2 linked regions of the Homo sapiens genome follow. The protein of the gene in region 2 purifies or fractionates together with the protein of the main gene of each other region. This does not show direct contact. Each region holds a gene or a part of one and is shown on either strand. Other genes may lie near its edges.

The links. The genes of interacting proteins can lie anywhere in the genome.
Region 1: the proteins of DOC2B (region 2) and UNC13B purify together in Homo sapiens (affinity purification with mass spectrometry; one large-scale study listed by BioGRID and IntAct). This does not show direct contact.

What each region holds. Positions count from the first base shown.
Region 1 is NC_000009.12:35,304,018-35,308,527, forward strand, and holds part of UNC13B (protein unc-13 homolog B), read left to right. Parts: coding exon 1-4,395; intron 4,396-4,510. UniProt on the Homo sapiens protein: Plays a role in vesicle maturation during exocytosis as a target of the diacylglycerol second messenger pathway.
Region 2 is NC_000017.11:153,401-158,758, forward strand, and holds part of DOC2B (double C2-like domain-containing protein beta), read right to left. Parts: intron 2,978-5,358; coding exon 2,820-2,977; intron 1-2,819. UniProt on the Homo sapiens protein: Calcium sensor which positively regulates SNARE-dependent fusion of vesicles with membranes. Binds phospholipids in a calcium-dependent manner and may act at the priming stage of fusion by modifying membrane curvature to stimulate fusion.

The DNA of each region.
Region 1 (4,510 bases), on a different chromosome or scaffold from region 2:
ATATATCTATTCTCTTCTCACTGATTCTACTGGGCAGTATGCATATTTATTTATACCTGATTCTTATCAAGAGTATTTGGATTGTGATTTACAGACAAATGGTCTATCAAGTATTACGTTGGATGACAGCATTATTTCTGCCTGTAGTTTTAAAGTACTTGATAAGGAAGATGAAATATTTTGGTATGTTGAAGAGGAACCAATTGATGACCCTCTTGATTTATCTTTAGCTTTGCCAAGAAGTGAGGAACCATTGTATCTAAATTTAGAAACCTTTTCACAAGTACTTAAAGAGTCAAGTTGTGACCAAAGCGATCAGCCACTAGATTTTTCAGGCTATAATCGTCAAAAGTTTAAAGGAGACTTTAGATCTTTCAAAGAAAGGCCGTGTGGTTCTGAAGACGCTGAATGTACATTAGATCTCAGAAATCAGCCCCAAACTATTAGTAATCATGTCTCAAGCAGAGATCAAATTATAGAGAGAGATAAAAACCAGCCTCTAGCTGAAGATTCATCAGTTCACCTTTCCAGTTTCCATTGGCTTCAGTCTTCTGTTGAAGAAGTTACCACTTTGGTTCATCCTGAAAATATGACTAAAGGCTCACAACAAGCAGAAGAGACATCATTAGTGAACAAAGTGGCTTCAGTATTTTCTGTTTTGGGTGCCTCAGTTGGTAGTACTTTGAAGTTTGATAAGAGTGAATCCTTAGAGGCTTTGGCCATGCAGAAAGTGAATCAGCAGTCAGATTTAGCAGAGCTCACAAATGATGGCTTTCAGTCATTAATCATGAGTAAGCAATTAGAGGGTAACTCCCCAAATGTGGAAAAAAGTCTTCTTAAGGATTCAGAAAGACAGATAGTATCCAATGTTCAGCATCCAGAATTGATCAAAAATATAAGGCAAGAATTCTCTTTAAATAAAAACAACCATGTGAAAAAGCAAAGTTTGTTAAAATCTGGTTTCCAGGTAAGCCAAACAACTCCTCAGGCTAAATCAGGTGTAAAAGATGATGAAATCATTACAACAGACTCTATTTCAGTTTCTCCTGCACCTCAGCATAGTGGGGATGAGCGTGAGAATTATGAGCTTCCCCAGGGCCAGTCATCCAAAGAGTCTGATAAAACATTATTTAAAAGTTCATTGAAACTCTTCAGTCAAGAAGAATCGTCAGTTAGTATGACAGCAAATGAAAAACAGTCATCTGGATTTTTGAATCTTTTTAAGACTCAGGTGAATAAAGAAGGATCACCAAACTTAGAAAAGATTGGTGATACAAATGTCAAGATACCACCTCAAGAAAAGAAAGAATCTTCTGGTGTTTCAAATTTTTGGGGTACCCTTGGGGATTTCTTTAAAGCCAATGTATCTCCTATACAGACAACTGAAAATACGTCTGTTTCTTCAATGACTATTAAGGATGAGGTCAGGTCAAGTCCTACTCCTATGGAGCTAGCTAGCCAGGGTGCTGGGAACTTTCCTGCTGCACCAATTTCCTCTAAAGGGAAGGCTAGAGTTAGAAGACTGAACAAACAGACTACTATCGATGACAGTAGGTTAGAGGAATCAACTAGAGGGATCCAGGGTAATGATTTGACTGAAAAAGAGGTACCATTCAGAGACCATCTAATCCAGCAGTCACCTAATTCATCTTTTTCAACAAGTAGTCTCAAAGAGTCTTCCAGGGAGTCTTCAGTAGAAACTAGTGGTGTGACTACAGTGACAGAAGTTTCAAAAAGTAATGAAATATCCTTTGATACCCTGAGCAAGAGAAATTCAAATGAACAAGATCATTTTTCTGACAAAGACTGGAGTTTCTCTATGGCTGCAACATCTTCATCTCAACCAGAGTTATCAACCAAAAAGAGTATATTTTCTTTTCTCACTGGATCTGAAAAATCTGAGAACAGAGCCTCTGCTACTCTACCAAGAGCCAAATCTCAGGCAGAAGGGCTATTCACACTTCCTTCATTTTTTTCCACTGCTAGCTCAAGCATTAAGAAGGATGCCTCTCATAGTAGTTCTACTTTTAGTTTCTTCAGCTTGTCCTTTTTGGATCAAAAAAAGGAGACCTCTGGGGAAAAACAAAGCATTTCAACTGTTGTTCCAGTGACCTCCCAGCCCTGTAAGAAGACAAATGTTTTTGTAGAGAGTGGTAGCACAATGACCAGAGAAAGTTCCAGTGGTCATAGAGATAGCATAGCCCAAGAAGTAGTTCATGAACAGCAAATGGCACCTTGTATTTCCATTAACAACACCATTGAGGTTACCTCCCTTGCAGATGAGCTCAGTGTAGACAAGGACTGTCAGGAAAAACTGAGTTCCAATATTGTACCAGGGACATCAGTGGATTTCCAGATGAATGAATTGCAAAAAGACATTATTCCTCCTTCACCAGAATTTCAGGCACAGGCTGAAACATTCCTCACTGGCCCAGAGAACCTTGGGATAGCTCCCCATGAAGAAGAGGCTTTCAACCACAAAGCCTTCCCCAGTGACTCACTGTCCAACTCTTTTTCACATGCTAAACAGTTAATTGAAAAATTCAATGATTTAGACACTTGTACTAACTGCCACCAAAATGAGAAATTTACTACTGACCCAGTGAACTTGCCATTAGAAAAGGCCCCCGATGAGGTCTTACCACAGATCCTAGAGCCAGCCTCTTCCTCTCCAGAGCCAGGGTGTGCAGGGAACCTTCAGAACCAAGATGCAGATAAAGAGGAAGACAAATTTGCATTAGGCTCTTCAGTAGACATGCTTTCAGGGTTTGTGACCAAAGTGAAATCTTTCTCTGGGAGCTTAATTGAACCTCCCAAAACACTCTCTGGACTTTTCTCCTCTCCTAAATCTCCAAAGAAAAACTCCTTTTTCTCTCTTGCTTCTGATGTATCATCTCAGCCCCTCAAAGGTGAATTATTTGGAATTTTCAAAAGTCCCAAGCCAGAGCCATACAAACAAGAATCATCTCTCCCAGCTACTTCATGGCTTCAAAATGGTTGTTCCAGAGATGCTGTAGGATCAGTACCTCCAGAAAGGAGAGAAGCTGCCTTTACAGCACTAAGTTCAGAATCTACTCTCAGTGACTGTAGAATGACTGTGGTTAGTGCAAAGCCAGAATCAGATATCTTGACAGATGATCCTAAACTAACAACCAAAATGGAAGACAATAATACTCCTGAAAATATTCTGGAACCTCAACGTTCTGAAACAATTAATACATCTTCTTTCTCGGGTGATGATACTGGGCAAGGAGTATTGTCTCTGAGTGATGAAGGAGACATGGGGATATTGCAAGCTACAGACACGGAGGCATCGTTAGAAGCAGAGAACTTTGCGCTGCCAGCACAGTTGCATCCAGATCCTACCTGCATTGCCGAAGAGCTTCCTCCTCCCATTCAGCCACCTCTTCCTCTTGAGCCAGAGCCAGCTATTCAAACTGCCTCCACAAACCAAGACTTACTGGAGCTGCATCCAGCCAGTTCACTAGAAACTGATACTATGCTGTTCAATGATGCAAGTGTGAGCCAGAGCACCACTCTGGAAACCGAAGGGCACTTTTCTCATCCTCTGCTGGAGGACCCTGTGCTTGCTGCCAGAGAAAGTTGTGAGATAATTCATGCCCAGAAAGATCCACCTGTAGTACCCCAGGAAACAGAGCAGTCAAGACCACGTTTTGAGATCCCAAATGTGACCACTTGGCCAAAGCTTCGTTTGCCATCCTCTGCTACTAACCATGGGAAACCACTGAGCTCTTTCTTTTCCTCACCTCTCCCCTCTGGCAATAGAGCAGCAGAGACTGGTTTAATGTCCAGTTTTAAGAAGTTGTCAACTCTATTTGAGGGAAGTAGTGAGGGGAAAGGGAGTGTATTAGCAAGTGATTCAAAACTAGGATTTGGAAAGGTAGATCTTTCATTTCCATGGCCAAAAGAGAACAAAGGGGTCCCTGAACAAATGCCTACAGAATCCTCCCCTCCAGTTTTAGTTACTAGCAGTGATCAGGACCTTAACTCCAGTGAGGCTAACAAAGCTTTGAAGTCTTCTCAAATATCTGGGGCCAGTGCTCAGCCAGGTAAAGTCTACACTCAGCCCTCTGGGACCTCTGAGCAGCTGGTGGCCAGTCCAGAGGTCTGTGCTCAGGGGCTTTCAGGGTCTGGAGAAGGGGGAAACCAGCAGGAAATCTCAGCATCTGGAGAACACTGGGATACCAAAGCCAACCTGTCTAGCCCCGCCTGTCCTTCAGGGAAACATGAGGAAGAACCCTCCACTGTCTCTGAGATATTTCACCAGCTAGAAAAACAAGAAGAGGAGGCAGTACCTGCCAGTACTGACTCTGATTTGAATGTACAGCAGCCAGTCACTCTGAATGACATCAAGGAGCCCATGACCAACAAAAGGCCTGTTCTTAACTCAAGCATCATAAATGGCTTTAAGGAATTGACCATTTATGATGCAAGTGACTTAGTGGTAGATTAATCATAGCTTGCTTTTTATCCTTCTTGTGTCTTTCCT
Region 2 (5,358 bases):
TTTAAAAATGTCACACCATAGGCCGGGCACAGTGGCTCACGCCTGTAATCCCAGCCCTTTGGGAGGCCAGGGTGGGTGGATCACTTGAGGTCAGGAGTTCAAGACCAGCCTGGCCAACATGGTGAAACCCCGTCTACTAAAAATACAAAAATTAGCCTGGCGTGGTGGCGCATGCCTGTAATCCCAGCTACTTGGGAAGCTGAGGGATGAGAACTGCTTGAACCTGGGAGGCAGACGTTGCAGTGAGCTGAGATCACGCCACTGCACTCCAGCCTGGGCAACAGAGTAAGACTCTGTCTCAAAAAAAAAAAAATCACACCATTTTGGCTTCAGATTGCATATCCTCCTGCAAGGATATATACGCGTGAAATTCAAGTCAATGACAAATCAGAAGAAAAAACATATATATACGCAAACCAGTATCCTACTGTGTGTGTCGTTTGTTGTGTTTTCGACAGCTGTCCGTGTTATAATAATTCCTCTAGTTCAAATTTATTCATTTTTAACTTCATAGTACCACATTCTACACACTGCCCATGTCCCCTCAAGCTTCCCCTGGCTCCTGCAACCACAAATCTACTCTCTGCCTCTGTGGGTTGACCTATTCTGGACACGTCATAGAAATAGAGTCCTGCAACACGTGGCCGTCTGTGTCTGGCTTCTCTCGCTTAGCATCTTGTTTCCAAGGTCCTCCCACAGTGTAGCATGCACCTGCTACACTCCTTCTTAGGGCTGATATTCCACGCACCTGCTACACTCCTTCTTATGGCTGATATTCCACGCACCTGCTACACTCCTTCTTAGGGCTGATATTCCACACACCCGCTACACTCCTTCTTAGGGCTGATATTCCACGCACCCGCTACACTCCTTCTTAGGGCTGATATTCCACGCACCTGCTACACTCCTTCTTAGGGCTGATATTCCACGCACCTGCTACACTCCTTCTTAGGGCTGATATTCCACGCACCTGCTACACTCCTTCTTAGGGCTGATATTCCACGCACCTGCTACACTCCTTCTTATGACTGATATTCCACGCACCTGCTACACTCCTTCTTAGGGCTGATATTCCACTGCAGGGACAGACTTCATTTGTGTATCCATTCATCAGTGGATGGACACTTGGGGTGTTTCCACTTTTGGCTGTTGTGGATAGTGCTGCTATGAACATTCCTGCACAAGTTTTAGGATGGACATGTTTTTCTTATCTCTTGGGTATATAACAAGGAGTGGAATTGCCAGATCAAATGGTGATTCTGTGTTTAACTTTCTGAGGAACTATCAGCTGCTTCCCAAAGTGGCCATCCCATTATTCTCATATTATTTTTATTTGTTTATTATATTTTGAGAGTGTCTCGCTCTGTCACCCTGGCTGGAGTGCAGTGGTGTGATCTCGGCTCACTGCAATCTCCACCTCCCAGGTTGAAGTGATTTTCCTGCCTCAGCCTCCCAAGTAGCTGCGATTACAGGCGCCCGCCACCACACCCAGCTAATTTTTTTATTTTTAGTAGAGACGGGTTTCCCCATATTGGCCAAGCTGGTCTCAAACTCCTGACCTCAGGTGATCCGTGCGCCTCGGCCTCCCAAAGTACTGGGATTACAAGCACGAGCCACTGCACTCAGCCTAATTTATTACTATTTTTAACTGTAGAGACAAGGTCTCAGTATGTTGCCAAGGCTGGTCTCAAATTCCTGGGTTCAAGCAATCCTCTCAAGTAGTTAGGACTACAGGGACATGCCACTACACCAGGCTAATTTTTAATTTTTTTATAGAGATGGAGGTCTCACTATGTTGCCCAGGATGGTCTCAAACTCCTAGCCTCAAGCAATCCTCCTGCCTTGGCCTCCCAAAGTGTTCAGAATGTAAGTGTAACTCACTGCACCTGCCACATACAATTTTTAAAGTGACAGAAATATGATCATGGCCATGGGAATGGTGCCCCTAGAGCTGTGCCACGAGGAGTACTGGCCTCTTCATGGTGCCAAGATGTCCCTGAGGCCTTAGTCACCTGGGTCCTTGGTGTCCCCTAGGTCAGGGCCATCCCTCTGTCATTCCCCCTCCCTGAAGCACCTGCCCCTCCTTTCTGCTGAACTAAATTCCTCCCCAAGTCTCAGTTTTCCAGAGTCTCCCTGTGAGCTCACACTCATACCTACCTAGTTTCTGAAGAGCCCCGAGCACTGACGGTAGTCACTGTGGCACCTGTAGCACCCTCTCCAAAGGGTCGCCAGCTCCTGCCTGGCTCTCAGAGCTACACAGCCTCTCCTGACCAGGCTCACAGCTCCACAGCTCTGCGGCCCAGGCCACCTGGCATGGCCCCCTGAGTTAGTGTCTCTCCCCAGGCCCACCATCAGCCCTGTTGGTAGAGCTGGGTGGACTCTTATCCGCATCTGTAGCACCATTATAGGGCTGGGCAAATGTGGGCAGTTGCAAAGGCCTGGCAGAGTTCCTCTGCATCCTCCCCCAGCCTCCTGGCTACCCCCGGCACTGGCCCCGCCTTCTGTCCCCTCCTGCAACTCATGGCCCCTCCTGGGCCCCTCAGTCACAGAGAGGCCTGGACATAGCATCAGGTGATAACTAATACCTGCATGACCCTGGGAAGCCACTCAGCTTCTCTGTCCCTCAGTTTCCCCATCTGTGAAATGGGCTGGCCATGCTTAACCCCTGGAGTTGCCAAGGTAGCCCATCAGGGAACACAGCGCCCCTGTACCTCAGGCACTCCCTGGGTGCCTGCCACCTGGGACCACGGAGCCGGCACACGGACCCCCGTCCTTGGAGGTGAAGACGTGGCAGGTGGTCACGCGCACGGCACACTCACGTTTTCACGTAGGGGTCCGAGTAGCCGTTGGCGTCCATGGCGGCCAGGTGGGCGCACCGCACGATGCCTACCAGCAGGCCTTGCTTCTGTGAGCTGTACTTGAGGGAGATGAGGATGCGGCCCCGCTCCTCCAGGGACTTGTCTTCAGTCTTGTCCACCTGTTGGACGGGACGGTCACTCAGTCCTCACCTGCTCCCACCCCTCTCTTGGCCGTCCTTGGCCTCCTCTTCCTGAGCCCGCCCATCCGGCTGCTGCAGCCGGGCCTGGTCACGGTCCCTGGTGAGTGGCCTCACTGTGAACTCACAGCCCTTCTGTCATCTCTTCCCTCCCAAGGGCTCTTCCAGGGCTGGATCTGACCCACACCCTCCCTGTTCTTGGCTGCATGTGGCCTACGGTGGCCTTCACAGCCCAGCAAGGGCCAGCCCAGGGGTTGGCAACTGCAGCCCGGGGGCCAGATCAGGCCCGACGCCTGGCTCTGTGTGGGATGTGAGCTAAGCATGGCTCTTACCCTTATCTTAAACAATTTCTTTTTCAAAAAAATAGAGACAGGGGTCTCACTATTTTGCCCAGGCTGATCTCAAACTCCTGGGCTCAAGGGATCTTCCCACCTTGGCCTCCCAAAGTGCTGGGATTACAGACATGAGCCACCGTGCCCAGCTGGTTCTTACTTTTTGGAATGGCAGAAAGAAAAATGAAATGAAAAATATTTTGTGACACATGAAAATGACATGAAATTCACACTTCAGCTTCCATTAACACCGTGTTGTTGGAACGCAGCCTTGCCAGCTCCGTGATGCTTCTCTATGGCTGCTTTTGCCCTAAGGACAGAGCTGCATGGTGGCCACAGATTGCGAGGCACACAGAGCCTAACATTAGCGCTAAGCGGCCCTTCACGGGTCTGCAGCCCCCGGCCTGGCGCGCTCGGCTTCCGCGGACGGTCTTCCACCAGGTCCTCCTCACAGCCCGCCCGGACTTTCCCTTGGCTTTGAAGCCGGGTCCCACCTCCACACCTTTGCGCACCCTTAATCCACAGCTCCAGCACCCTCCTCTGACCTCCTCAGTGTTCACCGTTGATAAATTCCTGGTCCTTCTGGGCCTGGGGGGCTTTTCTGACCCTCAGGGTGGGTTGGCCGTCCCCTCTGCGCGCCCACTGCCTCGGGTTTATCCTGTCATGGCCTGGTGTGGCCCCCTGCTTCCTCAGGGCTCTGCCCCAGCCTCTAAGTTCCTTGAAGTTGGAACTCTACCTGTAAATTTTGATTTTGACAGAGTCTGACTCTTGTCACCCAGGCTGGAGTGCAGTGGCATGATCTTGGCTCACTACAACCTCTGCCTCCCGGGTTTAAGCGATTCTCCTGCCTCAGCCTTCTGAGTAGCTGGGACTACAGTCTAATTTTTCTATTTTTTGGTAGAGACAGGGTTTTGCCATGTCTGCCAGGCTGGTCTCGAATTCCTGACCTCAAGTGATCCACCCACCTCAGCCTCCTGAAGTGCTGGGATTACAGGTATGAGCCACCGCATCCAGATAATACCTGCGTCATCTTTAATACCTCAGGGCTGGGCAAGGCCCTGGCACTAAGGGCCCACTGGAGGCTTGTACTAGTGAAGGCAGGAATGGAGGGACAGATGGTCCCCTGTGCGTTCAACCTCATACAAGCAACTCCAGCCTGGAGGTTCAAAGAAAGGCAGAAAGGTCTGCCCATGACAATGGAGCCTGGTGGATGGAAAAGGGTCACCGTGGCCCCAGTTCCCTGAAGGTGCTACCTGGAGCCTCTCAGGGTGCTGGATGTGGCTCCCTCAGGAGAACCCCGAAGACAGAGTTCTGGTACATTCCTCACCCTGGAGAAGCTGGGAGCCAAGTAGGGAGCCCATCCAGTGCCTTCCCTGCCTCAGCAGCTGCCAGTGCCTGCCTCTCAAGGCAGATCTCAGCTCCAGGCCTCCCCATCCCCAGCCAGCCTGATGCTTCTCCATTCCTTGCCCTCCCGAGACTACCCGGCTTCTTCCTTCTGGCTGCTGCACACCCCAAACCCTCTCTCCTAGGCCCTCAGCCCCCCCAGACAAACCCAGCTTGAGCCCACCCACACACGCCCAGCTTGAGCCCTGTGTCCCCCTGGATCCCCTTAGGACTCTACCAGGCTCCTCTCCCAAGCAGCCCCAGCCACCTCCTTTTGCCCACAACCGTGCCCTGCCTAACACCAAAGTGAGTCCCTCTGGCTACATCTAACCCTTTCTGGAGATGAGACTCCTGTGAGGTGAGCAGGGATGTTGAGCAGGGAAGACATACATGCCCCACCAGCCACCTTCGCCACCTCCCACGCCCAGAGCAGACATGGCTAATCGATCCTAGCATTTGCCCTAGGCTCCAATGCCACCTCAGAATCCTTTTCAACACAGTGCTCAGGCAGCCATTCCTGGTGGATCAGGCCAGGCCTGCGAGATCTCGCTATCTGCCGCTCAGGCAGAGCTTTGTGTGTGAGGGCCTTGATGCCCTGTGCTGCTTGTGTCAGTGTGTGTGGTGTGAAAATTAAACAATATAAACTAG